Homo sapiens: one gene and its partners. The protein of the gene in region 7 purifies or fractionates together with the protein of the main gene of each other region. This does not show direct contact. Each region holds a gene or a part of one and is shown on either strand. Other genes may lie near its edges. The genes, in order: TTC27, SNW1, DHX15, HNRNPU, SF3A1, DHX9 and PRPF8.

Region 1 (4,076 bases), on a different chromosome or scaffold from region 7:
GGCTGAAGCAGAAGAATTGCTTGAACCCATGGGGCAGAGGTTGCAGTGAGCTGAGATCGCGCCATTGTACTCCAGCCTGGGTGACAGAGCAAGACTCTGTCTCAAAAAAAATTAATTAATTAATTAGTTAAAAACTTACCTGAAATAAAATTAAACAGATTTCCAGATTTGCTGCTTTGCCATTAAAGATCTTTATGTACAGCGCTCACACCTATAATCCTAGCACTTTGGGAGGCTGAGGCAGGCAGACCACTTGAGCCCAGGAGTTTCAGACCAGCCTGGGCAACATGGCAAAACTCCATCTCTACAAAAAAATTAGCTGGACATGTTGGCATGCAACTGTAGTCCCAACTACTTGGGAGGCTGAGGTGGGAAGATCGCCTGAGCCTGAGTAGGTTGAGGGTGCAGTGAGCTGTAATCCAGCCACTGTACAACAGCCTGGATGACTGAGTGAGATACCATCTCAAAAAAAAAAAATCTTTATGTAACTGAGGTGATACAACCAACTAAACAACTGGTGCAGCTGTCTGTACTTTCATTAAAAAACACAGCTAACACAGCTCCATAAAATGGAGTGTGTATGAAGAGGAGTTTGACAAAGGAACTTCTGGAAATCTGTGAAAATCTGATCAATGAACAAGCATTCTTAGTACTTTTGTGCAAACCATAAAGTCATGTTTCTTTCCTACTATGAGTTCCAGTTTATAAAGACCTGCTTATAAAAAATAAATAACATAATAATAATTACATACAACATTTTCAAGAAGCATACCTCACTGAATTGCTGGAACAAAACAGATGACAAAAAGTCCTGAGGGTGTAAGTCAACAGGGGGCCCCGTCCAGTTGCTCTGAACAAAAAGTTGCAAACTGCTCACACCAAGTAGAAATATCAACTGTTGTCTGCATATAAGAATGGTTAAAGAAATAAATATGAACTACTATCACTGTATAATCTCAAACACACTATTCCATTTCAGTTTTATTAAGAAAATAATATCTATCAACATTTATTGAGACTATCCTAGAGTATTACCAAAAAAAAAAATTTCTAAAACTTAAAACAATTTAGGTTAGCTAGGCACAGTGGTTCATGCCTGTAATTCCAGCACTTTGGAAGGCCACGGTAGGAGGATCATTTGAACCCAGGAGTTCAAAACCAGCCTGAGAAACATAGTGAGACCCTGTCTCTACAAAAAAATTAAAAGTTAGCCGGCATGGTGGTACATCCCAGCTACTCAAGAGGCTGATGCATGAGGATTGCTTGCAGCCCAGGAGTTTGAGGCTGTAGTAAGCTTTGATCATAGCACTGTACTCCAGCCTAGATGATAAAGCGAGACCCTGTCTCTCTTAAAAAAAAAAGAAATTAGGTCTACAATATCCAATATTATAGCCACGAGCCAAACATGGTTTAAATTTGCATTAGTTAAAATTAATAAAATTTATAATTCAGTTCCTTAGTCATACTTTCCATATTTCAAGTGCTCAATAGTTAAGTGTGGCTAGTGGCTACCATGTGGGCAATGAAGATAGAGAGCACTTCTATCTCCACGGAAAATTATCTTGAACGGTGTTGATTTAGGTTCTGATCAGACATCTATAAGTTTTTCTTGCACTCCCTTTAACAGCTCTGATGTTGCAAGATGTATAGAAAACTGACTTTATACAAAAGAAAAGTGATGATATAAAGTTGTTGCTAATTGTTTACCAATCCCATACCACCAAATGCTAGAACAACAACAACAACAAAACATATAGATATTTTAGTGAAAACTCTATTTTTCAGTCTTGCTGTGATGTGAGACAGGGATAGGCAAACTTTTTCTAAATATGAAATATTTTAGGCTTTGCATATCATGTTTGTTTTTTTCCAACCCTTTAAAAATGTAAAACCCATTAATTCTTAGCCACTTAGTTAGCCTGCCAGCCATAATGTGCCAAACCCTAAATTAGGATCTAAATAGGTACAGATCCAACTCTAGCAAATAACAGCCAGGGAATCCTGGAGTTTCATTCTGAAGAGAAAGTATTAGTAATCACTTTTTTCCCCACAGCCCCTAGGCCCTTCCTTAAAAGGAAGAGTCTTTCAGAAAAAGAAAAAAAAAAATCAAACATACAAGCCTATGGTAGCAAAAATATAAAACTCTGGATGCAATGCAAATAAGCAGCATTAGAGAAAAAAGATAACAAAAGAGCTGGTATGCAATCAGAAGTTTGGAAATTTGGAGAAAACAGCCTTAATAAACTGTCCTAATCAAAAAACAAAATCCATAAGGTGAACTGAAAATACACTTTAACTTTCAAATGTCTGAAAATGAGTCAACTGAAATGTCTCTTTTTAGCTTTATGTGACAAGATAGAAATCTGGTATATCAGTGAATAATGCATTTGTGTGAATGTGTTGTTTTAATGGGTGCCACAAGGCTAGTTGCTATGAGAGTGCACACATATAAGAAAGCAATGAGAATCCAGCCGGGCGGAGTGACTCATGCCTATAATCCCCACACTTAGTGAGGCAGAGGTGAGGATTGCTTGAGCCCAGGAGTTCGAGACCAGCCTGAGCAACATATCAAGACACCATCTCTACAAAAAGGAACTAAAAAAAAAAAAAAAAAAGAATGATACCAAAGGAACATAACTACCAGTAAACTAAAAAAAATTAAATGGAGGCTGGGCGAAGTGGCTCACGTCTGTAATCCCAGCACTTTGGGAGGCCGAGGTGGGCAGATCACCTGAGGTCAGCAGTTCAAGACCAGCCTGGCCAACATGGTGAAACCCCATCTCTACTAAACATACAAAAAAAATGAGCCAGGTGTGGCACAGGCCTGTAATCCCAGCTACATGGGAACCTGAGGGAAGAGAATCACTTGAACTTGGGAGGCGGAGGTTGCAGTGAGCCGAGATCACGCCTCTGCACTCCAGCCTGGGCAACAGAGTGATACTCCATCAAAAAAAAAAAAGAAAAAAGAAAATGAATAATATTAATTTTCAAAATAAAATTAAAAGCCTGTAGTAGCATTCTTTTGCAAACTCCTTATGAATATGGGTTATGCTTTATTCATCCTCAGAACCTCCACATCTACTACAATAGTTTATTTGTTGAAGGACTAAATGAAGCTATTTCCTAGAAATAATGGTAAAATAAAATTGCATGCATTTATAAGATAATTAAAGCTTGACATGGTTGCCACAGATAGTAGACGAAAGATAGAGGTATCAAATTTATAACAATGAAATATAAGCCACTGAAAAGCTTAGGTTTCCCTGCTGTGTAACTATCTGCTATACTTAACCCTATAAAATTACACAAACTTTAATGGAAGAAGGTAAACCAAGGGCTTCCTTACAAAAACATTAAGTTCTCTGAGCTCTATAAAGATAATAATCTAAAACATAATAAATAGTTACAAATTAGCACTCAGCTATGCAGAAATAACAAGATTGAAAGTATGTTTTTTGTTTTTTGGTTTTTTTTTGAGACAGAGTCTCGCTCTGTCGCCCAGGCTAGAGTGCAATGGCGGGATATTGGCTCACTACAACCTCCACCTCCCAGGTTCAAGCGATTCTTCGGCCTCAGCCTCCCTAGCAGCTGGGATTACAGGCGCATGCCACCATGCCCAGCTAATTTTTGTATTTTTGTATAGACGGGGTTTCACCATGTTTGCCAGGCTGGTCTTAAACTCCTGACCTCATGTGATCCGCCCGCCTCGGCCTCCGAAAGCACTGGGACTACAGGCGTGAAGCACTGCACCCAGCCTGAAAGTATGTTTTTAAGTTAAAGGAAATAAGGTCTGAAGTTTTGCCGGTGGGTAAAGCCGACCAGACCTAAGCATTTGCAGTTAACACCAAAATATGTGCCAGTCTCATATATGAAACCATTTTATCCTGCACCACTTTACTTCTTCATTCTGGATGGACTTCTGGATGAGTTTTTACATAGATTACTTGGTACACCATGAGTCTTGAGTAAAATATAAGGCAAGGTTTCTCAACTGCTAAAATCAGGGCCTTACCCTGTCAAGGTGCTATTAAATGTATTTGCTCTGTTCCTCTATGAAAATTTCAAATAAAATTCTA
Region 2 (4,076 bases), on a different chromosome or scaffold from region 7:
CTCTTCCCACCTGCCCTAACTATTCTGACACCTCATCTCCTACTTATCCCCTTCTTTCTCATACAAATCCAGTCATATTGGCCTGTCTGCTCTTCCTTGGGCCACACTAGGCATACTCCCATTTCAGAGCCATGTACTTGCTGGCCCTTCTGTGTGGGATGCTCTTCCCCCAGAAATCCACATGGTTTGCTTCCTTACTTTCTTCAAGTATTTCTGCTAACAGCACCATCTCAGAAGTGAGGGCTATTTGACCACTCTCACCTTCTGGCAATTTTATATCCTCTTTCCCTGTATTATTTTTCCTCCACAGCAATTATTACCTTTTACTATACTACATGATTAATTTCTGTCTGTCTACACTCACCAGAATGTTGACTGTTATATCCCATCCCCCTACCCACTGTCTAGCAAAAACACTTTGTGTCTAAAAGAGAACCTTGCACACAGCAGATGCTCAATATGAACTAAATAAATGAAAGAATGAATAAATGTACCAGGTAAGAATTTAGTAATGAAAAAAAAATAACCACCCTCACAAAATTTCTTGAATTATACTTAGGACTCGACTTCCCACTCTAATTGAATTAATACACCAATGTAGACCACTAAGTAAAGTCAGAGAGAAAATACTGGCAGATTTAATGATGAGAAATGCATTGGAGCCTACAAGATAGAAAAACTCTGGATTACTTCACCATATGAGGGAGCTGAATTATTCTGTTAGATACCTAATTTCTCTTAAGTTTTGAGATTAAGATAAGAGAAAATCAAGCCTATCATTTGAGTAATAATGCAATTTTGAAAAGTACACTGCTCAGAAGTTTAAAAATTTCTGGTACAGTCCCAAACTGAAGACCCACTTTTTTCTTATCTCCTGTTGCTTCAGCTTACTAAGGCAGAGATTACTCTCCATTTCTACACTATATCTGATGTATCTAAATTTTGTTTATATGTACCTACTTTATATGCAGTAGGAAAAAGATTTTCTAAAATAAGATATATTTTGTTCACCAAGCAAAATTCAATTCAGTAATGAGAATGTCATACCTTTTTCCACATGAGTTTTGATCCCAGCTCTTCTCTCCCTGGCTTTCTGGGCCATTTCTCTAAGTTTCTCTTCATGTTTTTCCTTTTCTTTCTGAGCCATTTTTCTCTCTACTTGGGCACGCATTTCCACAGCTTCACGAGCCTGTTGGTAAAGTCACATGTTAAACAGGACACTATCATGGGATAAATATTTATGGCTATCATCCAACTCCCTAACATCTGGCTGGTAAGAGCAATTATACAGAATTCAGATTTGTTATTGCTAATTAAAACAAAGAGTCTTGTCCACTAAAAGATATCCTGCCTGGAAGACACTGCAAGGTCAGCTTTTTTCTCTGGGAATATTTTAGTGATTGAAACTATCGTGACCCCAATTAATCTTGTAAGTCAAGTATTTCACTAATGCTTTCTCAGAAACAATCTAAAGAACAAAATTAAAGCCAGGCATAGTGGCTCTCTCCTGCAATCCTAGCACTTTGGGAGGCCAGGGTGGAAGGACTGCTTGAGCTCAGGAGCTTGGGACCAGCCTAGGCAACATAGTGAGATCCATCTCAAAAAAATAACATTTTCAAAATTAATAACACTTTCAAAGTTAATCAAGTCAACTCAAGATAAAATCTTAACTTACATCTGCTAGATAATTTTTATAAGGGTACTCACTGTGATACAAAAGACATTTTTTTTATGTTCCAAACACATGCTATGATGCATGTGAACTTCAATATCACATATTAATTCCATAATATTTATATTTACATATATTTTTTGAGATGAAGTGTCTTACTCTGCTGCCCAGGCTGAAGTGCAGTGGTGCGTTCTTGGCTCACTGCAACCTCCACCTCCTGGGTTCGAGAGATTCTCCTGCCTCAGCCTCCCAAGTAGCTAGGATTACAGGTGCATGCCACATCCAGCTAATGTTTGTATTTTTAGTAGAGATGGAGTTTCACCACATTGGTCAGGCTGGTCTTGAACTCTCAACCTCAAGGAATCCACCAGTCTTGGCCTCCCAAAATGCTGGGATTATACACATGAGCCATTGTGCCCAGCCTAATTCCATAATATTTAATACATTATGTAACATTAATAGATGGCCAATGCTATGAACGCCATTTTATGTACTATTCAATTCATTAGAATGTTTATCTGCCTTTTCCTGCAACTGCCCTTTTGGGGGACATCTACATCTAAAATAGAGGAAAATTTGAAATCAAAAATTATGAAACCTAGCAATCTTCAAAAAATGGGATCATCCTAGGAAACCATTATTCTGACATGTTGTGAGGGAGCCGGATCACCACTGTGGGGTGTATGTACACATCTACAAAAGCTGGGAGCATGCAGAGAGCTGCCAACTAGCAGCTGCCATTTCTGACACACGTACCATGGGTGAGACTCTCTTTGGGTGCTCGGTACTATAGTTAAATTATCAGTACCTTAGGTAACCAAGAATGGATTTTAAAAGTAACAAGAGCATTAAACAAATTATAACAAACCAACCTTCCGATCAGCAATGTAGAGGGCTTCTGCCAATTTGGCGAAATTTTCATTTATGTGTACTGTCTGTAGTCCTCTTCCATCAGCAGCCAGACGTTTGTCTAATGGAATTGTATAACCCTAGAGTGAAAGCAGACAGAAAACCCAGTCACAGAAGTGCTTCAATTAATCGTCTGAAGTTAAATTAATTTTATTTTTTTCGAGCTGGAGTCTTGCTCTGTCACCCTGGCTGGAGGGCAGGGGTGCCATCTCGGCTCACTGCAACCTCTGCCTCCTGGGTTCAAGCGAGTCTCCTACCTCAGCCTCCCGAGTAGCTGGGACCATAGGCGTGCGCCACACACTCGGCTAGTTTTTCTATTTTTAGTAGAGACGGAGTTTCACCATGTTGGCCAGGATGGTTTTGAATTCCTGACCTTGAGTGATCCGCCCTTGGCCTCCCAAAGTGCTGGGATTACAGGCATGAGCCATCGAGCCTGGCTAAAATTAAATTTAAATATGCCCACATTTTGAGAACCACTTAACTGGAGGTTCTTTTTCCTTGCATCTTTCTTCACAATGATGCAAAACAACAGCAGCTATCAATGAGTGCTTTATGTAGAAGATCAAGCACTTACACCTATGGTCTCATTTAACCTTCACGATAACTCTATAAAGCTTCTAACATTATTGTGTCCATTTCACTGATGCTTTGGTAACATCCCCAAGGTCATACAGTTAGTAAGTGGGCGATTAGGATTTAAACTCAGCAGGATTTCAGAACCCAAGCTCTGGAAAAATAGATATTTGTGTTAATAATTGTCGATTTTAATAAAAGGAAATCACTGTCAAACAGTTCAACAGTTGCTCCTCAAGTAAATTTAACAGTCAAACAAAGGTAGAATCACTATAATCTTAGCATCTATAGGAAGTTAAATCTGCTGTACTGTCTTAATGATCTGTTATATTCTTAGAATCCTGAAGTTTTAGTAAATAGAAAAAAAAGGCTGGGTGCAGTAGCTCAAGCCTGTAATCCCAACACTTTGGGAGGCCAAGGCAGGTGGATTGCTTGAGCCCAGGAGTTCAAGACCAGCCTGGCAACATGGTGAAACCCCGTCTCTACCAAAAATACAAAAAAGTAGCCAGGCATGGTGGGGCACACTTGTGGTCCCAACTACTCGGGAGGCTGAGGTGGGAGGATCGCCTGAGCCTGGGAGGTTGAGGCTGCAGTGAGCCATGATCATACCACTGTACTCCAGCCTGGGCAACAGAGCGAGACCGTCTCAAAAAAAAAAAAAAAAAAAAAAAAAACCAAAGAAAAAAGAAAAAAAAATGTTTGCTAAACAACTGAATTTCTACATTCTAAAACTTTGCATCCCATTTCAATAACTCAAGAACTGTACTTGAATGTCTATGTAACTTTCAGGCTTAGCTTTATTTTCCAGATATCTGACTAGTCTCTCAAATGTTGACTTTTAGTCCATGGTCTCATAATAAAATGAAGCATTATAGAACCAGCTCAAGATACCATCCAGTTACAAAATACCAATCAACTCAAA
Region 3 (4,076 bases), on a different chromosome or scaffold from region 7:
GTCAATCTTGTTAAGTGAAAAATGGGATTACTTTATGGTTTTAATTTGCATTTATTTTCTGTGAAATTGAACATTTTTGTATATTAGCCATTTGTATTTCTTTTTGGAATCTGAGACTGGTGCTTTTTTCATCTTCTCAGGATTTCTACCTAGTTGATAGCTGTTTTTAAGGTGCTATTTTAAAATGCATCTTAGTTTCAGAGAATTTAAATTTGACCAAATATGCGGTATTATAAAATTGATAGAATTAGATGTTTCATCATATGCTTTGCCCATATTTCTATAGTGGATTGGCCTTTTTCTTATAGATTTGTAGGAGCTTATAACAGAATTAGCACCTTGGATATAAGTTGCAATTTTTGCTCAGTTTGTCATACATTTCTTTGCTTTATGACACTTCATGCTACATAGAGACTTGAATTTTGTACACGTATTGAATTAACCACTTTTATGATGTCCAGGTTTTGCATCATACCCTGCCCAGTGTTGGTTTAAATAATTTAATCCATGTATTTTACTATTTTGTTTTTGTTTTAAACATTTAACCAAGCTGGAATTTTACTGGGGAGGGATCATAAGCTTTGAGGTAGGGATTTCTGGTTTTCATTTTATAAAAATGATTTTTTGCCTTTCTTAGGCTTAGTTTGTAATTTTTTGGAATGTTTCATAAAATATATATACATATATATAAATACAAAAATATAAATAAGTAATATATTTGCAGGATGTAATGTTTTACCATGGTTTGTTCAAATCAGAATTAGTGATGTGTTAGGTGTCGTCATCTTGCTGAGATCATAGTTGGCAGTTGGCTTGTAGTTATACTACGCCATCTACATGTGCCTGTTGCAAAAAAATACTTAAGCTAGGTTGATACTGTTCAGTACATGGGGTTTTTGGTATATTTTATTAAGCAGTCACAGTTGAAAAGCTGAACTGTTACTTACTCCAAGGATGTTTTTGCTACTTTAGACATCTTTAGGTAATCTGCTTCTTGTTTAATTTGATTAATTTAGACTAGTGTTTCTTAAACTTTAGCAATCATCAGAATCACTTGAAAACTTGTTAGAGCAGATTGCTATGCCTCACCTTCAAAATTTCTGATTAAGTAGATCTGAGATGAGACTCAAGTTTTGTAGTTCTTACTAGTTCCAAGGTGATGCTAATAAATTTTTAAGAGCATCTCTGCCCTAAAACAGTTGGAAAACACTGTAGATAGTAAGGCACCCAGTAAAGTGTGGAGTTTGGCTATCCTGTGGCACTTTTATTAATTCATCATTGAAACTTCAAACTTAAAATTTTACTATTGTGACTCATTCCTTAGCCTGGATAAATATTTCATTACTACTAAGAAAGTTAGTAAAACTTGACTCTTACATAAAGGAAAATGGACTGTAGTTTTTATCTCCAGTGCCTGATTCTGCCTTTCCTGAGTTCTGTGTCAAGTTAGTTTTTTGTTGTTAAGCAAAGGGTTTCATACATTTAACAGTATAGCAAATCGTCAAGTACTGTTTCTTTTTTTTTTTTTTTTTTTTTAGTGGCTTAAAATTGACAAATTCATTCTCTCACAATTCTGAAGGTCAGAAGTTCAAAAACAGTATGTTGGCAGGTTAGTTCCAACTGGAGGCTCTAAGTGGCAATAGTCTTTCATGATTCTCTCCTAGCTTTTGGTGGTGGCTAACAGTCCTTAGCATTCCTTGGCTTGTAGCTTTGTAACCACAGTCTCTGCCTTCATCTTCACGTGGCTTTCCTTTTGTGTTCAAATCTCCCTCTCTTTACATTTTGTAAGGATACTGGTCATTGGATTTAGGGCCCACTCTTAAATTCAGGGCGATCTTGTCTGAAATTTATAACTTAATTACTTCTGCAAAGACCCTATTTCTGAGTAATGTCACGTTGATAGGTACCAGAGGTTAGGACCTGGGCATATCTTTCGAATAGCTTTTTGCTATGAAATTTGTACGTACAATGGGTTCCTTTATCTGGGACTTTGTGAAGAGTGTGTTAATGTAGGAGAGACTTAGGACTGGGAATCAGTACAGTGATACCTAGTCTTAGTAACTGGTTTTGAGAGTCTGGAAAAGTTGACTACGGTTTTTTTCGTTTTCTTCACTGGAAAAGAAGTAAATTTGACTATATCCTTGAGACCTTTGAAATTTTGAAATTTCATTTTTCTTGAAATTATTCATTGTACAAACAGCAGTATCCCATATTAACTGGTGATGCAAGAAGTAATTAAGTGCAGCACCTCATGGAATGGGATCACTGGGTGATGATCAGTATTGAGGAACCATTGGGAATTGTCTGGATGATAGAAGTTTTGGCCATTTAACTAAGTACTTGCAATATGCATAGTTAATAAAGCACAATAAAATATTTCCATTAATCTAATTTATAATATTTATAGTCTGCCATCTGTAACATTTCTTCCCTTAGAAAAATAAAAAGGAATGTCTGTTGGTTAGCTCTGCTCCATATTGTGATTGATTAAAGCTTGAGGAATGTGAGGAGAAAAAAGATCAAAATAAAGAAGGTGACTTTTAAAACTAGTTTTAAGAAGTTTTCAACTTAAAGTCATATTTTATCATTTCTGTGACTTTTTTCTCAAGTTTTTATTGTCTGAAGTTACAATGTGTCTCACAATCTACTGAGGTCTTGTAGTTGGTGGCAGTTTGGTTATTATTGCCTGTGAATGCTTGAACTCGATCTAGCTGTACATATTTTCACCTCAAATAATGTGAATTGTTGGGTCTGTATATACTGAGAGTATTTGCTAATTTAAATGCCTTCAGAAATATTAAATATTACACTATGATTCCATGTTGAAATGAGCACTGAGTATCAAGAGGCTGGGAAATGGAGCAATAGGGTGTAAATATGCTAGTATTTGAGCAAATGTTGGAAGAGTAACCAATCCTTTTTTTTTTTTTTTGCCTTGCAAATCAACAGACCGCTCTATTGAAGCTAAGAGAGGTAACTCACAAATAGAGGAAGCTGTATGTTATGTTCTGCTACTGAGATCATGTACAAGAGTATTGCCTCTCTCGTGTCTGTGATATATCGGAAGACAGGAAAAATTACCAAACGTCCTCAGATCAAAGAAATTTCAAAGCAGCTAAGGGCTATAGTGTTGCTGATTCTTGCACTATGCTTTACTGTCTTTAAGGCACTGAGTCATAATTTAATTGGCAGTGTTTTTTCTTTCCTGGTCTTACATAAAATAACCTTATAGCTAATGCTGTTTGTCCCTCCCAGGAATGTGGTAGTTTATTTTTAAAAATATGACCAAGGACAAGAAGCATAAAGCATATAAATGAGTTAAGATGGATTTGTTTGCCAATAGTTTATGAAATTTAGAATTAAGTTTAGGTGAAATAAAGAGAATTCACTTCTTTTTGTTGTACACTATCAATTTGCTGAACTTAATGCTCCAGCAGATGGCATGAGCTAAAAATATCCAGTTGGTCCATGAAAGATTAGGTTAGACTAATCATAAAAAGAGCCAAAATGGTGAATTCATAAATGATGGCTTCAGATTTTTTAATACCACTTTTAAATCCGTAAATAAAATAATGGGTTTTTATCTAACTGGATGAGCTGTGACTTAAGCATCTAAAGGCATCCTGTGTTTTGTCCAGGTGCCAAAAGGAAGATAGTTGTTTTTCATAGTGACATCAGTAACCAGTGTGGAATGGACAGGAGATAGCTGACCCCTGCAAAGTTATACAATCTTGACCCTTGATCTCATTGCCTTCATTCTTACGTGGCGCCTGTCTTGTGATAACTGGAGTCCATATTAGCAGCCTTCACTTGAGCCATCCCTAACTAAGCCTGGTTTCCCTTTTTGGTTCATTGATCAATCTGACGTCATTTGTTTTTATCTTCCATTTATGTATCAGCATTTGTTTAGTGTTGATGCTGCCCCTCAGTCCCACTTCTTTTATTATTGAATTCCTTTTGTGCTTTAAGATTATTTCTTTGGGGTGGGAGGACTCACGCTTTCAGCCCTTTTGAACCAAGAGCCTGTTGTTAGCTTATTAAGTAAGGAATTGTTAAGGCTTAACAAAAAATGTTTA
Region 4 (4,076 bases), on a different chromosome or scaffold from region 7:
CTTCACAATCTTTCTTCTCTTCAGGCCCCTTTGGTCCTCTAACTCGATCCTCTAAGGGGACGTTCTGGATGAAAGTATACTCTTCAGGTATTGGAAAATATGGCTTTTCCTTCTGACCAAAATTAAATTCAACTGCACAGTTGTGGCAGAGAACATGCGGGAACAGTGGCCGTCCAGCAAGAACTTCCTTACTGATTTTGAAGGCAACGCCAAGATCTTGTCCATTCTTAGCATACGAGAGTTCTACTTCATCACTTTCAAAGTTCTGTTACACAGAAAAAAATTCAACAGTTAAAATCTGCTTCCTTAAACTTTCTAAAAAACTAAGAATTAAAATTAGGAGCAAAGCTTATCCTGTGGAAGCTACAGGTTAAAGAACTATTAGGTGGCCTTTAAGGGCTACACAGTTAAGAAATCTGATGGTTGTAAACCATGAAGCACGTATCTCCAGAACCAGAAACAATACTGACCTAGAAGCTAGACTGAATTTTCTAGGTCAATTTCATGTTCACTGTTTTCAGTCAAAATGAATTAGTGAGTTCCTCAAAAATGTCCTGTGTTTTCCCAATTCAACTGCTGAATGAAGTCTTTACACTAATCCAGGGACTGGTGTATTTTGTTGCTCATATTGAAAACTGACCTCAGTAAAGCTTCTTTAAAGTTCCTAGATATAGCTACTAACTTTGCCATTTATACATAGAAAGTTAGCTTTAACTTACAGCAAAACATGTAATCACATCATTTTCATCAAACTTTTCTCCATAATCTTCAGTCTCACAGTTGCATGTTTTTATTCCTTTTAGAGAATACCCATAAGAAAATTCTTCTTCACCTAAGAAAATAATTAATCTTCATGAAGTAGATGTTTAAAATAGTCCAAAGACTCATCTATTTTACTACTTAAGATGTAGGCTACAAGAGAAATAAGCATATAACCTAATCACCTGTCACTGACACTATTACTTTTCTATCTCTGTACCAGAATTGATGGAAGTTAGGAGGGATATATACGCAGAGACCAAATTAGTTGACGATTTGCATATCACGGGTAAGATTTTATTTCAACCATTGGTCATAAACTTCTAATAAAGGAACAAAAACTAAAATGTAGCCTGTGCCTACTATGTGCTAATATTACCTGTCTGAAGTATTAACAGAATAGATAAAAACAGACAAAAGGCTTAGAATGCCCTCTAGTTAAAAAACACTGAAATCAGACCCTCCTGAACATTCATGAGCCCACATCAGTCAAAAAGAAGCTTTACCAAGTAACATTCCACTTGTAGTTAGTGACCAGCCAATACGAACTTCATGTATGTCAATATCTTTTGTATATAAATGCCTTACTGGGATCTTCTCTGTAACCTGAAAGTCAAATCATTAAATAATTAAAATAATACACCAAGGAGGTAACCCCTTAACTCTCGCATATTTCATTGCGCCACGGGCTAATCTTCCTCTAGCTATAAATACAAAGAAGGCACACTCTAGCCCACCCCCAATATTTGTAAGAACTTTAAACTGATGTGCTTATAACTTGAAATTTAAAGAGTTAAATACTTATTTGACCCATATTTAAAAGAATACTTAATATTTTTAAAGTTCATGTTGTCAGTCTTTAACTTAAAGCCAATTAAAGGATACAATTAATGTTTTTCTCACCAACAAAAGCAGTAATGTAACCAAATTTTATTTTTAACTCTTTGGTGGCCCTTTCAAATGCTTGATAAAAATGAAGTACCCTAAATAAAAAATCGCCTAGCTCTGCATGGCAAGTTCTAACATAACAACCGTGATTAACTGTCACAACAAAATGAAGGTTCCAAGCTCCTCTTTTAATTTACAGGAAGCTTCAAAAATAAGTACCTTTGATAACTTAGCAGTATGAAGCACCTGTAATTCCAGCATTCTGAGAGGCTCAGGCGGGCAGATCACTTGAGCTTAGGAGTTCAAGACCAGCCTGGGCAACATGGTGAGACCTTGTCACTATTTTAAAAAGGAAAAAAAAAGGCTGGGCACAGTGGCTCATGCCTGTAATCCCAGCACTTTGGGACGCCGAGACAGTGGATCACCTGAGGTCAAGAGTTGGCGACCAGCCTGGCCTACGTGGTGAAACCCCATCTCTATTAAAAATACAAAAATTAGCCAGGTGTGGTAGTGTGTGCCTCTAGTCCGAGCTACTTGAGAGACTGAAGCAAGGAGAATCGCTTGAACCCAGGACGCGGAGGTTGCAGTGAGCCTAGGTCGCACCACGGCAATCCAGCCTAGGGAACAGAGTGAGACTGTCTCCACAAACAAACAAACAAATCATAAAATTGCATTTACCTTCATCTCAAAACACACTTTGCCTTTTGACACACCATAGGATGCTCTTCCTCCAGCCCAAAGAAAAGCAAAACTCTCCATTGTAAGGGAAGAAGCACTGAGACGATCTCTTGATATTTTAAAATGTAGATCACAATTATCTGTAATTATATCAAATACTGTGTTACTTTTGACATCCAATGTAAACATATCTGCTATGTAGACAAAACTTGGTTACTTAATTTTTGCATGTACTTCTTAATGCTGCACAACTTTTCTCCACATCATGCTGTTGTTCCAATTTTCAGTTTAAAGCCCCACTCCCACCAAGTCACTCCTGTTAAATTATGTACTGAAAAGTAAACTGCCTGTGAAACTAATACCAAGGTTTAACATGTATATTTTAAGTATTTAAAATAATCAAGACAATGTGACATTAATACATACCTGCTCTGCTCTTTACCTTGATTTAGAGGCAAGCAGTAGAGGATAGCAGGAAATCAAAGTGAAGCATGCCAGAACCAGGTAGATTTACCAGTGCCACATTAAAACTGAAGGGAGGCCACGACCAAATTATTTTAAAATAGGAGTATGAGCTGCTGTTGATCCTGCACCAGGGCTCTAGCTCCTAAATTCTTTTTCTAAAACTTGTGAAGAAGACAGCCTAAAACTATGAAGTACAAACCTGGCCGTCTAATGCTGTTAATAGTGCAGCATTTTAGGTCCTCTTTACCCAGGACTGCCTGTTCAACAATTAGGGATTAATTGCTTCCCGGATTATCCAAATCCAAAGTGTCTTTAACCCAGCTACCTATGGGTCACTGGCTCATTAACATGCACTTCCTCAGACTTCTCACTTGAACAGCTAAAGTCAAGCTGGAACTCATTTTCTTTTTACTGATCAGAGAAAAATAAATCTACAGTTTGGAATTTTTCTTAAATTAGAGTTATTCTAATCAACAGAATTTAATTCAACAGATTGTTTGAATTCAACATTGTACTTATATTGACATATTCCTGATTTGCTAAAAAATCTAACAATTACATTACCTGTGTGAGTCACCACTTCACTACCTTGCCAATTCCTAGCAACTTATTTATACAACCCAGAATTTCACTAAAACTTTCACATCAACTAACTCCTTTTTCACCTGCAGTTTTTTCTTTTAAAAAGGCTCAGATGACTATCTCAACCTTCTGTAAAGGATATTCCAGTAAGAAAGAGTTTTACATTGACACTCTTACAAATCTGAATAAAGCCAATTTGTACAAGAAAACATGAGAAGCTAAGCTCCAATGCCTTCCATCTAACACAGCAGGCTGACACCATAGCTGATACTTTTGAAACAGTTATTTTTATCCTTTGGTCTATTTATCACACCCAGAGTTGTACATTCTCATCACTAAACCAACTACGTTTTTTTGTAACAAAAAAAAAAAAAAAAAAAACAAGTCTGACAGTCAAAGCCCACTTAGAGGTTTGCAATACTTTCTCACTCAATTGCAACCCAACTGGGTAAAGTAGCAGTATTTACAGTGCTGCACTGCCATTGATACCATTCGCTGCTGAAGAAAGCTAGTGGCCCAGTGATAGCCCACTGCTGCTGCCTCAGGTCTTTGGAAGAAATCAACTTATGTTTAAAGCAGCAGCTACTGAACTGGAATTGAGAACAAAAGAGCAGTTATTGAAAAAGTAATATTACAATCTTTTAAAATAGGGAATATACTTGTGTGCTAATGGGAGAAGTCATTAGTAAATATTTAACTAGCCC
Region 5 (4,076 bases), on a different chromosome or scaffold from region 7:
GGAGATGAGGAAGCATGGGATTCTGTGTCCCAATCCCAGCTCCACTTGGCTGTGGGACTTAGGGCAAGTTACTTAACCTCAGTAACTTGATTTCCTTCTCCAAAATAATGGCACCACCACTCAAAGTTGGCACCATGAACTTAAAAAGGTGGCTTCGAGGATTAGCAGGAAAGCATGCAAAGCACTAGCCGATTACCCAGAACACGGTCAGTATGAGACGGCTGCTTTCATGACACTGACCTGCTCTCATCCTTTCAAAAACACTACGCAGGTCCCCCCTGACTATCCTATTCAGAACCGCAGCGTACTTGCCCCACCTCCCTCTATTTCTGCTCCCTGCTTTCTCTCTGTAGTATTTAGCACCATGTAACAGACACTGACAATGCACTTGACTCCTCCTCACTAGACTAGAAACTCCATGAAGACAGGGATTTCTCTTTTGTTCACGATTACATCTCCAGCCCCCTGAATAATGTCTGACAATGTATACTTACTGAGAGAACAAATGCTGCCTTTGTTCTAAACAGCCCCAACAGCTTCTACTGCCACTGGCAAAGTGGCTCGGCCCTATCCCAATCCTCCTTCCACCTCTACCCCAAGAATCTATCTGCTCAGTCTTCCATGGCTAGAACAGACAGCAGGAACCTCAAGTTACAGTGGTAAATGCCAATACCCAAGTTCTGAAGAAAAAACAGGAAAGTAACAGAATAAAAAGTGATCTGGGACCTTTAACCCTGGAAGCAGTCCACTGGGAGAAATTAATCCAGGGTTCATTTAAAATTGATATTGCATATTTATAGAAACCCTTGGGCCTTGGGCCTTGAATGACTGTTATTTTAGCTACCATACTAGCTTCTGGATTTGGTCATTTTCTAAACACACACATTGTTAAAATTCTAATTATGTACTTAAAAGTGAGTAGAGTTAGGAAATTCTCAAGTCCTTTCAAGTCAGATCTTTGAGGTGTTGTTTCTGGATATGAAGAAGAGATGTACAGACCATCCCACTGTAAAGGGAAGGAAAACAACCTCCATGACATGTGTAGCAAGAAAAATGTGCCACAGGCAAAGCTGTCAGTGCACTTTGCAATAAATTAATAATCTGATTATTTTAAATGCCAGAACTGACTTGTCCTGATTCTTGATTGCAGCTCTGTCAAATGATAATTGAGTTCTTAGGGTCTGGAGTAAAAATGCCAGAGCTCAAGCCCCAGCCCTGCCACCTCCTAGCTATGTGACCCTGGCCATGCTAACTTCACTGCACCTCAATTTTCTCTTCTGTAAAGTGAACATAGCAATAGTGGCTACCTTATAGGCTACCGGAGATTAAATGAGAAGATGCTGCATACATAATTTCTTAGTGATGTTAGTTATACTGACTTACATGACATCAAAGTGTCTCTCAACACCTATTTAAATGCTGTTTCCAATTTAAGGCACTTTATAAGCTGAAGAACCAAAGTTTTAGGGTCAAATGTGGTTTAAATCTCAGCATAGTACTTACTAGCTGACAGACCTTGAGTACGTGACTTCACCTTTCTGAGCCTGTTTCTGCTTCTCAAACATGGGGGGAAAACACCTCATGGCTTCTTGTGAGGACTAAGTTAGGTAAAAGGAGGCAACTCTTAAAGGTTGGCTTCTTCTCAGGGCCTTACTAGGCAACTGAAAACGGAAATGCACTTAAAAGCAGCAAGCACCACGTGGCCTTGTCACATAGCAGGCAATCGCCTAATGGTAGTTAGCAAGCATGTATTTCCCTTCTCTTTAGAAACCGGCAGTCTGTGTTGCACTTAAAGAAATAACTGAATAGAAATCAAGGTTTTACATTAAACTGGGATTCAAAACATTTGCTCAGAGGCCCCATGGAGAAGCGATGTCCTTGTAGACAGTGAGTGGACACAGTGCTTCCAAGCATAAGATGTTTTCCTTTCCTGGGCCCAGGACCCCAGCCCCATCCTGCCCAGGCACCTTGGTGTACTGTTCCACTAGCTTCGTGAAGTAGTTGAAGAGGCTGTGCTGTGGGCGGAGAAAGTCAAACTGGTAGTTGCGCTGCTCTTTCTGCATCAGCTGGGTCAGAAACTGGCGCCCATTCCTGGCCACAAACTGAGCCGTCAGCTTCACCACATCCAAGTCGAAGGCTGAGATAGAGGGAGGATCAGCAATGAACTCAAACTCAGGAGGAGGCTCTTTGGGCACGATGGTCTCTTGGATTACTTGGGCTTGGACCTAAGATGCAAAGGGAGTATGAGGCGAGAGGCACAGGGGTGAACAGGCTCCAGGGGAGGGGAGGGGAGGGGACATGGGCATGCACCCCTCAGCAGGATGCTGTGAACCTCTAGACTTCTGTTAATTATGCACACACCACTAGCACTTGGTGTGAGAGAATTCTAAATCACAAGAGCATTGACTTCCCAGCCAACTATGGCCTCAACTTCCTGAATGGCTGAGTGAGAACCATTCCCCTCTGTATCTCTGCTCCTGCCTTGAAATTGAGGGCCAAAACTGGGTGACAGAAGATCCAACAAGAATAGGACTTATTAAATCCCATCCAAGAGGGATGGATGTGCAGAAGGCCTACATGTGTGCAGAAAACCCCACTGTACAAAGTGTTTCCATGACCTCCGCATGAACGATGAGGTAGCACAGGTACTGTGAATCCTCTTTACAGATGAAGAAACTGAGGTAGCCTGAGGTCCTAGGCCTCATTGCAACGCAAGGTCTTAGAACCTGACTTCAACCTTTATAGCCCACTGCAAAAGGAGGGACTGCCTTTTCCACCATGGTTCAGGAGTGCAGAAGGCAGGTCTGGACAGGAGGAAAAACATGTCAGCCTCTCTCTTCATTCATAATCCTAATAGTCCCTAGTGCTGGGCCTCAGCACAGGGAAGGTGGTATCAGGGGAGGCCAGGATGGAGGGGTCCTGGGAAGAAGAGATAGAAGGGAAGGGATGGCACAAGGAGGAGCCCACAGGCCACACTGCATCCTTCAGCACAGCCAAGTAGGAAGTGCTGCCCTCACATCACGGCACTGCCCTCACACCCTGAGCAAGGCCTTGAATAAATCACACGTCCCCCAACTCTCAGGTTCCTCATACAGCCTCTGTGAGGAGTCAATGAGACAAGACTCCTGAAGTACCAAGCACAGAGCTTGACAAGCAGTGCTCGGGAAATGCCAACTAACATCAGTACTTTGCTGTCTGGGCCTCGGTCTGCCTCTGAGAGATGGGGATAACGACCTCACTTCTCTCCCTGGGTGGTTGTGAGATTTGGAGTTAATTGTGTACTCCCTCCCTATCCCTGTTTCCCTCTCAAGCCCTGCGTAAGTGAAGGGGGCACTGGGCTCCAAACCTTCTGGGGCAGCTGCTGCTGGGTGGTCTGCTGCTGCTGCTGCATGACCTTGGGGATGGCGGCGGACGGCTCCTGAGCCTTCCCTTCCTTGAACTCGCTGACCTTGTGGCGGTAGTAGGCATGGTAAGGGTCATTGGGGTTCAGAAAGTTGAACTTGGGGTTGTTGATCTCGTTCTGTCGGATCCTAGCTTCAAATTCAGGCCCGTTTCTGGAGGAAGAAAAAACAACAAGAATAAACACCACTCCCTTGTGCCTGCTGTGATCTAGAACACTGCCCATTGGAACGTCCTTCTTGCCACCACCCACTGCTCAAACCAGCCCATCCCTCAGCAGACGTCCTCCTCTAGCTTCCTGGCATTGGCGATCAGTGCCATCTGCCTCATTCAGCTTGAACCAGGCCACCTCTGCCACAGGGTTTCCCTGAACCCAGTCATTCCTTAGCTCCTTTTCCAGTTCTGCCATTTCCAAAACCATCTAGGCTATCGCTCATTTCTTTTAATAAAATTTACTTTAAAAAAAATCTATTTAAGATGGAGAATACATATTACTACTTCAAATAAAAAAAAATCAGTATGCCTTTACCAACAAAAGGTAGTCAAAAGTGAACATAATGAAAACAAAGTAATACTGTCAAAGTTTAGCTGGAAGTTTGCTGAGACTAATTCTCTTAGTTCAAAGGGGTAGCAAGTGCTGGAGAGGTGTAAAAGGTACATGAGCACCAAACCTAGAC
Region 6 (4,076 bases), on a different chromosome or scaffold from region 7:
AATGGCCCCAAACTTAGGCAAACACAGATATGAAGAGTAGTTATAATCAGCACTAGCTTCTTAAAATTCACTGCTAGCTATGAGCAGGAGTCTTAAGCCAAAAAGTCTATCAAGCCAAATAAAATATAATAAAAATATATGCAATATATAATAAACAAAAAACAAAGTCCAGCAATATGGATCATTCAGACTTTCTTTTTTTTTGAGACAGAGTCTTGCTCTGTTGCCCTCGCTGGAGTGCAGTGGCGTGATAGCTCATTGCAACCTCCAACTCCCAGGTTCAAGTGATTCTCCTGCCTCAGCCTCCAGAATAGCTGGGACTACAGGTGTGCGCTACCACACGGGGCTAATTTTTTTGGATTTTTCGTAGAGACAGGTTTCACCATGTTGTCCAGGCTGATCTTGAACTTCCTGAGCCCAAGTGATGTGCCGCACCCAGCCAGATCATCCAGACTTTAAAATAATGAATTTAAGAGACCCAGAATACTGGCATTTTCTAGGTTTTCAAGAATATGATGGCTGAGCCTACTGGCTGTCCATTAAGCTCTATTCCATTTTTGCCCAGTGCTTACCACTAGTTTTGAATCAATATACAGAGTATGTGAAAGGGTACTCAAGCTTCACTTAGATTCTGATTCCATAGTGGTGGTGTGCCTAGTGGTAGACATGGCTCAAATTCCTAATGCATTTGCTTCTACTGGTATCAATTTAAGATTAAGTATATAGTATATAATTAAGTTAGATATAATTAGTATATAATTAAGTTAGATTAGCAGCTGAATTCCATCATATTGTAATTCTAAGAATTCAGTTTGGAGTTCACATCTGAAAATCCATACCAGTCATCTACAAGCACAATCTGCCCATCAGATTGGACTTTCTTGGAGGCAAAGAGAAGCAACTGCAGGGGGGTGACTAAAGTCATGCCTTTAGCAGAGATGGCTCGAGTTCGAATCTGCAAATGGAGAAAGAGACAATACAAAATGGTTGACATTCCAACTTCCAAATACCGCTATATACTGTGCTTTGAAAATCAAAATTCATGTTCCTAATGATTGTAAAGACAATTTCAACTTTCAATGTAAACTTTTCTAGTCTTTTCTTACCTTTTCACCAAATACAAAGAAGGGAGATGGGTACTTCATGTCTTGGCTACTAAAAGGACAATTAACAGATGATTTGTGGATAAGTGCATTACGCCCTTCAGTGGTGAGAATCTTCCTCTTTTCCTTATGATAGCATACATTGGGGTACACACCAAAGGCCAGGAGGGAGATAACAACATCCAAATTATTATCTGGTCCAGTGTTAGTAAACACTTGTGTCAACAAACAATCTGTTAAGAGGAGCACAGTGAAAACAAAAATCAGATAACTGGCTGATCTTCACATTACATGCAAACTATTTAAGATAATTCAGAGAACTGACTCTTCCTCACTCTTTTCACATAACCTGTCTGTAAAACTTTCTCTTCTCAGAATCCTTACACCCAGATTAAGTTCAAGGAGTAATGTTACTGAGTTTCCACAATAAGAAAACGAAAACGTCTCTATTCTCTTATAGACTCAACCATAAATAAGCTTGGGGTGATTACTTTTTTTTTTTTTTTTTGAGACGAGTCTCGCTCTGTCGCCCAGGCTGGAGTGCAGTGGCGCCATCTCTGCTCACTGCAAGCTCTGCCTCCCGGGTTCATGCCATTCTCCTGCCTCAGCCTCCCAAGTAGCTGGGACTACAGGCACCCGCCACCACGCCCGGCTAATTTTTTGTAGTTTTAGTAGAGACGGGTTTCACCGTGTTAGCCAGGATGGTCTCGATCTCCTGACCTCGTGATCCACCTGACTCGGCCTCCCAAAGCGCTGGGATTACAGGTGTGAGCCACTGCGCCCGGCCGGGGTGATTACTTTTTAAAGTCCCCCAATCAACCATCTACTCTGAGAATAAGAGCTTGACTGATAGGACCACAAAGTATTTATCTGCTACTCTTAAATAGCTGTTAGTTGTAGAGAAGATGGAGATAATCTAAGAGGACACCTACTGGAATGAAGGCTGACGTTTTTACCCAGTCTACACTTTGAGTACTTAGCTACTGACTGGAAAGCATGACAGTCAACCGCTGAAAGCACAGACATATTTTGTTCTAGACAAACGAGTTCTAGTCTTATAGCCTCCTAATTGGATGAATTAAAGACAATTTATACCTTGGTGCCTGTTTCATTACCTGTAAAATTCATCTCAAGATTCTAGCACATGAAGTTTTCCCTTTCTTATAATTTTGAGGAAAAACTAAAATTTCGGCTGGCTTATGACAGAAGAGAACCACTCACTACTTTGTTTAGTTATTCCAATTACAGCCTTTAAAAATTTACCATCTTGCCCAACTACCTTCTGTCTCTCAACAGTCTTATTTCTGGTTATGCATTCCAGTTCTCAATGTTTTAGGAAGTAATTCTATATTTTAACCTAGTTGGAAAAGAAAAGTACTACAGCTCATCAAGAAACATGGGTTGGTTTTTTTCTATGTTAGATGTCATAAAGTCCTTTAATCATCTGTACACCGAAAGTATAAATTAAAGTCATTTAAAATTTAATGTGGTAGAATTTACTTCAAGTCTAAATGCTAATAAATTACTTTGCAAACCACTATAAGGTTATCAGCAAAGTACTCATTCTGGGAACTAGACCAGTGTTCACGAGAACTAAGAAATAGTCGGGAATATATAAAAATCATAGGGTCTAAAATTTGAAACTAAAATACACTTTGCTGTCAATTTGCATGTACTATATAAATGTCACTTTAAAGATATCTTAAGAATGGAAGAAGTCTTACCTTCTGGAAACCCAGAATTAATCAAAATCTCTTTGAGCTGAACTTTGGCTTCCCAAGTCATTCTTAGTGTAGCCATATTAAGTCTTTTGTGCTCACAAAAACGTATCTCTGCTTCTTCTCCACCCATTCTAAAATAAATTGGCATGAGAAATCATTCTCTAAGACCAGAGAACTAAATACAAATGAGAAACTACAGACAGCTCACCCAAATCTTACTCATACCTAGCATCATCCCAGGCTTGGAATACTGATAAAAGGGCTACGTGATCAGAAAATCTGTTTCCAGCAAAATTTCGATGGATATAGCCCAGCCGCTTTCCTTCATTGATGAAAGGCTCTGGAAAGCAGGTAGCAGCAGCAATGGTACAGATAGCATCTCCCACGCTGAAATACACAAAGACAGTTAAATCCAGACTAGATCACAATGTTGTTGCCAGCAGCTCAGGTAGGACTGTCGACTGTGGGTTGCAGTCTTTATGGCTATGATTCTACTTTTATTTGCAATGAAACTGGCTTAACAAAGAACTTTATAGCTGCTCTCTTCAGAATCAGAAAGAAAAAAATGCTCTGATGCTCTAATGGCCACATATTTATCATAAATTATGACCAAGTATATTTTTCCTTTTATATTCTCTCTTCCCCATCATACCAAATCTCTTAATCTTCAACATTTTCTGATAAAATAAACCTCTTTTCCTGACACCGCTCTTTCAAGACCAACTATTAATAACAAGGGACCCTCCCACCCTGGCCTCCCAAAGTGCTAGGATTCAAGGTGTGAGCCACATTGCCTGGCCTGCTTGCTTTTAACTTTTGAGAAATCAGTGCCCTTTTCCCCATATTGGGCCCAGATATCCACCTACTGGAACTGTTCATTTTTTTAGTGTTACACTGCTCTCAATATCTAGGTATGTTACTTCCCTGAAGAACATTTAGGATTTTTTTTTTGTCTATCTGAGCCAATACTGCTTTTACAGGGAGGAGAAGATTCTGAAATTATTCTGCCACTTAACGAAGAGAAATAAAACAAAGCACTTACTAGAAAATACACCCCATTATCATCATTTTGCCAAAACGAGGCTCAATGGGGAGTTTAGCCAGGATTCGTCCCAAAGGAGTCAACTCATCATTGGCATCTAATGCATCAAGCTCTGTGGGGAGATAGTTCTTTGTGAGCAGAAACAAATGAACACTAATTTTAGGCAGACAAAACATTACTCTAAATTAAGGTTAAGACAGTTTAGAGTTC
Region 7 (4,076 bases):
GTACTTTGGGAGGCCGAGGAGTGTGGATCACCTGAGGTCAGGAGTTCAAGACCAGCCTGGCCAATACAGTGAAACCCCATCTCTACTAAAATTTCAAAAACTAGCCAGGCATGGTGGTGCGCGCCTGTAGTCCCAGCTACTTGGGAGGCTGAAGCAGGAGAATCACTTCAACCCGGGAGGCGGAGGCTGTGGTGAGCCAAGATCGTGCCATTGTACTCCAGCTGGGGCAACAGAGAAAGACTCAGTTTCAAAACAAAACAAAAAAAAAATTGCCAGGCGTGGTGGCGGGCACCTGTAATCCCAGCTACTCGGGAGGCTGAGGCAGGAGAATTGCTTGAACTCAGGAGGCGGAGGTTGCAGTGAGCCAAGATCGTGCCATTGCACACCAGCCCAAGAGACAAGAGTAAGACTCTGTCTCAAAAAAAAGAAAGTCAGTAAAGTCAAGGTCTCACCGTGTTGAAACGATAATAGATGAGATGCTTCAGGTCCTTGCACATGCGAATCTGTCGCATCAGCTTGTATTTGTATCGATACATGCCCGTCAACTGCCCAACATGGGCAAATATATACTGCAATCCATCTGCCAGCTGCAATACAATTGCCCCATCAGACCTGGAGCTTAAACCAGCTCCACGGTCAGCACAGGCTTCCTCCAGCGTCCTCACCCAGGCAGGGGTTGGGAATACCTAACCTTACCTGGAAGGCATCCACATTGCCCAGCCGATACTGCACGTGACTATCCACCACCAGCTTAGTCAAACGCAGAACTTCCCGACACAGGTGGAAAGCATTCCCAAAACGAGATTTCTTTCTTTCCTGGAGAAGATGCAAAAAACAGACAGAACGTGAATGAGCAATGGACCCAACTGATGTATGCCTTCATCAGTAACCAGAGGAAAACAACTGTCCGTCCTTGAAGCCCAGGAGGCCCCTAGGGTCCAATGCAGGCACCTTGGTGGTGAGCGTTTTCACAGGCTTGAGGTTGAAGTTGTAGTCCAGGTGCAGGTAGTTGAGGTTTTTGCGGTGAATGAGAAGGTTGAGCATGTTGTAGCCCTGGCGGCAAACCTGGAGCCCAACCTCCACCCAGTCCAGCTTTGTGGACTGAAAGAATTTGGTGGCTTTGAAGGAGCGGAACAAATACCTGAGGTGGGAACATGGAGAGTAAGAGTCAGCCTACTGATATCTCTGGAACAGAAGTCTGCGCAGGGCCCCTGGGGCACCTTACCTCTTCTTTTGAGCCTTAGGGGGCCGATGCTTCAGGGCATTCAGCACATAGTACTTAAGCAGCTTCTGGTAGGAGACCCTCACTTTCACAGGCTGCCCGGCAGGACAATGCTCCCGATACCTGGAAAAATAAGCCCACCAGAGTTTGGCCATCTCTTCTTCCAGACACTCTGCTAAAGGCTGCAAGCCTTGGGTTGTCTACCATTTTTATGGGAAAAAAAAAAAAAGAATTTAAAAAAAAGGCTACATGCCCACCTAGTTGGAGTCTTTTCTCCTACACATCCACTATCATTCCCCCTGCCACAGGGAAAAACCTTACCAGTTCTTGACAAGGGGTATGTCCAGGGCCCGACGGGTGCGACCAGAGCGTAGGTTGAAGGGCCGCGGGGCCCAGAGCAGGGCAATGCCATTGGCTGTATTGTCTGTATAGAGGGGTGTGTCCTTCAGGAAGGGCTCCACAAACTCCGGGAGCTCAAATTCCTCATCATCATCCGGCAATGGTTCCTGGCTCTGAAAAAGGAATCCCTCTAAGGGTTTAGCTCCTGCTGAACTAGGCACAGACTTAAGATGAGGGAAATTCTCTGGGGCCAAGCACAAAGCCTGTATCTGCTATGGAAACTGGGCTGTCTGACAAAAGCAGCCCTGAAGTGCCAGCACAAAGGAAACCAAGACAGCAAAGAACAAGACAGGGCCACCAGGAAAGCAAGCGTCACTTCTCACACCTCAACTGGCTGACCACCAGAAAGCCTCCCAATGGAGCCCCAACATCACAGGAGGTCAACATTGCAATCATCTCCCACCCAAGCTCCAAACACTGGGCTTGGACACAACGGAACACAGATGAGCATCAAAAACATTATGGTAAGCTTAAGAAGCCAGTCACTGAAGACTACATAGTGTACGATTCTATTTCATTCTATCATATGAAATGTGTAGAATAGCCAAATCTATAGACAGAAAGTAGATTAGTGGTTGCGTAAGGAAGTTGGGGAGAAATGGCGAGTAACTGCTAAGGGTTTCTTTCTCAAGTAATAAAAATATTCTCAAATTGCATGTCGTGACAGTTGGGACAACTCTGAGAATAAGCTAAAAACCATCAAATTACACACTTTAAATGGATAACTTGTATGGTATGTTAACTACATCTCAATATAAAGGCTAAAACAAACAAACACAATAGAGACAGACCGGGACAGATTATCTAGAGCACCCAAGAAAAGAACCGTAAAGTCCAAAAGGATAATCACAGAAAACAGGATTATACCAATGACATGTTTTAAAGCAAATGCTGAATTCTCATATTCGCTTATAGCTCAAGGGGAACACTTAGCAAGACGGAAAACACATCTCCCTCCACCTGAGCGTTTAGTAACATCAGCCAACCTCACGCATTTCTCCTAGAAGAGCTGAGGGAAAGCATCCCTTCCCTTCCTCACCTTGACTGAGTGCCTATGGGAGATTGGGTTGATCAAAGGGTCAAAGTAGAAAGCTGGCAAGTCAGGATCCTCAGTTTTGATGAATACAACATTGGGAGTATGGTACCTAAAATGAAAGGAAGAGTCAGCCAAAGTTTTCCCGCCCTGGCCCAACCTAAACAGCAGCCTTCTCCTTTCCAAATGTTGTGTTCCAGGTCTCTTACCAGGTGAGGTGGACATGGTGTGGAAGATTGTTGTACAAGTAAGGAAAAGCAATCTTGTACTCAGTGCGGATAGGCTGCCGGATGATAATCTTGTTAATATCATTGAATTCATTCCAGTCTTCATCCCTAGGGTACAACATCAAGAATAAGCAGACTTTTTTTTTTTTGAGACAGGGTCTCACTCTTATCACCCAAGCTGGAATGCAATGGCATGATCATCGTTCACTGCAGCCGTGACCTCCTGGGCTCAAACAATCCTCCCACAGCTCAGCTTCCCAAGTAACTGAGACTACACGAAGCTGTGAGTGTCACCACGCCCAGCTACATTTTTTGGTAAAGATAGGGTTTTGCCATTTTGCCCAGATTGGTCTCAAACTTCTGGGCTCAAGCAATCCTCCTGCCTCAGCTTCCCAAAGTGCTGAGATTACAGCGTGAGCCACTGCACCTGGTGTAAACAGACTAATTTGGAAGTTATATCAGGACTTTAAGGATCAAGATTACGTTTCATTCAACTCAAAATGTCTAAAATCCCTAATCTCTCCAACTCACTGTAGGTTGATGTCTCGAACAAGAGGTTCAAATTTGGGGCCTCCAGGAATGGCCATATTGAGTGCCTTGGACGTAAAGAAGGCCTTCAAATCAAACAGGTAGAAGTAGTTGTCATCCACCAAGTCTGTCAGGAGCTGATTAGCCAGGCGGTAGAGAGTCGACATCATAGGTAGTGTGAACTGCCAGCGCTGGTAAGTGGAGCCATTTACATACCTAGGTAAAAAATGAAAGGCCCACCTCAAGTAAGCAGCTAGACAAACCCATACCACCTACTGATCTCCCAGGACTCCTTCTGCATTTCCAGAACTCCTCCCAGGTGTAGTATCTCCATCTATCACTCACTTCCTGCTGTCCCTCAACGGCTGGTGGTCATAGAACCAGTCCAACACAGGGGCGTCCTCCTCAGGGTCCAGCTCTAGCTGAATGGCCTCCAGTGGCTCAACATCTAGGATGTTGTCAGCATAGTCCAAGGGCGGCTCCTCATCATCAAAAGGGGGAAAACGCATCCTCTTGAAATGCCTCCTATCTCTTTTTTCTCGGCGCATCATAATCCACATTGACCTGGAAGGCAAGACATCACACAACCATTTCTACCCACTGCCTCCCAACCACCACCACCACCACCACCCACCATATTTCAGCCTTTCTCACCCCCACTGGGAGA

What was found.
Region 1: the proteins of PRPF8 (region 7) and TTC27 purify together in Homo sapiens (affinity purification with mass spectrometry; 3 studies listed by BioGRID and IntAct, with this or other methods). This does not show direct contact.
Region 2: the proteins of PRPF8 (region 7) and SNW1 purify together in Homo sapiens (affinity purification with mass spectrometry; 5 studies listed by BioGRID and IntAct, with this or other methods). This does not show direct contact.
Region 3: the proteins of PRPF8 (region 7) and DHX15 fractionate together in Homo sapiens (co-fractionation; 3 studies listed by BioGRID, with this or other methods). This does not show direct contact.
Region 4: the proteins of PRPF8 (region 7) and HNRNPU fractionate together in Homo sapiens (co-fractionation; 3 studies listed by BioGRID, with this or other methods). This does not show direct contact.
Region 5: the proteins of PRPF8 (region 7) and SF3A1 purify together in Homo sapiens (affinity purification with mass spectrometry; 4 studies listed by BioGRID and IntAct, with this or other methods). This does not show direct contact.
Region 6: the proteins of PRPF8 (region 7) and DHX9 fractionate together in Homo sapiens (co-fractionation; 3 studies listed by BioGRID, with this or other methods). This does not show direct contact.

The regions. Positions count from the first base shown.
Region 1 is NC_000002.12:32,630,702-32,634,777, reverse strand, and holds part of TTC27 (tetratricopeptide repeat protein 27), read right to left. Parts: intron 903-4,076; coding exon 773-902; intron 1-772.
Region 2 is NC_000014.9:77,729,941-77,734,016, forward strand, and holds part of SNW1 (SNW domain-containing protein 1), read right to left. Parts: intron 2,662-4,076; coding exon 2,545-2,661; intron 1,190-2,544; coding exon 1,048-1,189; intron 1-1,047. UniProt on the Homo sapiens protein: Involved in pre-mRNA splicing as component of the spliceosome. As a component of the minor spliceosome, involved in the splicing of U12-type introns in pre-mRNAs.
Region 3 is NC_000004.12:24,556,836-24,560,911, reverse strand, and holds part of DHX15 (ATP-dependent RNA helicase DHX15), read left to right. Parts: intron 1-4,076.
Region 4 is NC_000001.11:244,858,010-244,862,085, forward strand, and holds part of HNRNPU (heterogeneous nuclear ribonucleoprotein U), read right to left. Parts: intron 2,466-4,076; coding exon 2,326-2,465; intron 1,366-2,325; coding exon 1,266-1,365; intron 833-1,265; coding exon 720-832; intron 266-719; coding exon 2-265; intron 1-1. UniProt on the Homo sapiens protein: DNA- and RNA-binding protein involved in several cellular processes such as nuclear chromatin organization, telomere-length regulation, transcription, mRNA alternative splicing and stability, Xist-mediated transcriptional silencing and mitotic cell progression.
Region 5 is NC_000022.11:30,342,966-30,347,041, forward strand, and holds part of SF3A1 (splicing factor 3A subunit 1), read right to left. Parts: intron 3,555-4,076; coding exon 3,347-3,554; intron 2,226-3,346; coding exon 1,968-2,225; intron 1-1,967. UniProt on the Homo sapiens protein: Component of the 17S U2 SnRNP complex of the spliceosome, a large ribonucleoprotein complex that removes introns from transcribed pre-mRNAs.
Region 6 is NC_000001.11:182,880,399-182,884,474, reverse strand, and holds part of DHX9 (ATP-dependent RNA helicase A), read right to left. Parts: intron 3,979-4,076; coding exon 3,867-3,978; intron 3,212-3,866; coding exon 3,050-3,211; intron 2,956-3,049; coding exon 2,828-2,955; intron 1,337-2,827; coding exon 1,107-1,336; intron 956-1,106; coding exon 840-955; intron 1-839. UniProt on the Homo sapiens protein: Multifunctional ATP-dependent nucleic acid helicase that unwinds DNA and RNA in a 3' to 5' direction and that plays important roles in many processes, such as DNA replication, transcriptional activation, post-transcriptional RNA regulation, mRNA translation and RNA-mediated gene silencing.
Region 7 is NC_000017.11:1,678,066-1,682,141, forward strand, and holds part of PRPF8 (pre-mRNA-processing-splicing factor 8), read right to left. Parts: coding exon 4,064-4,076; intron 3,974-4,063; coding exon 3,755-3,973; intron 3,626-3,754; coding exon 3,413-3,625; intron 2,990-3,412; coding exon 2,864-2,989; intron 2,767-2,863; coding exon 2,661-2,766; intron 1,735-2,660; coding exon 1,544-1,734; intron 1,346-1,543; coding exon 1,226-1,345; intron 1,142-1,225; coding exon 952-1,141; intron 817-951; coding exon 697-816; intron 588-696; coding exon 453-587; intron 1-452. UniProt on the Homo sapiens protein: Plays a role in pre-mRNA splicing as core component of precatalytic, catalytic and postcatalytic spliceosomal complexes, both of the predominant U2-type spliceosome and the minor U12-type spliceosome.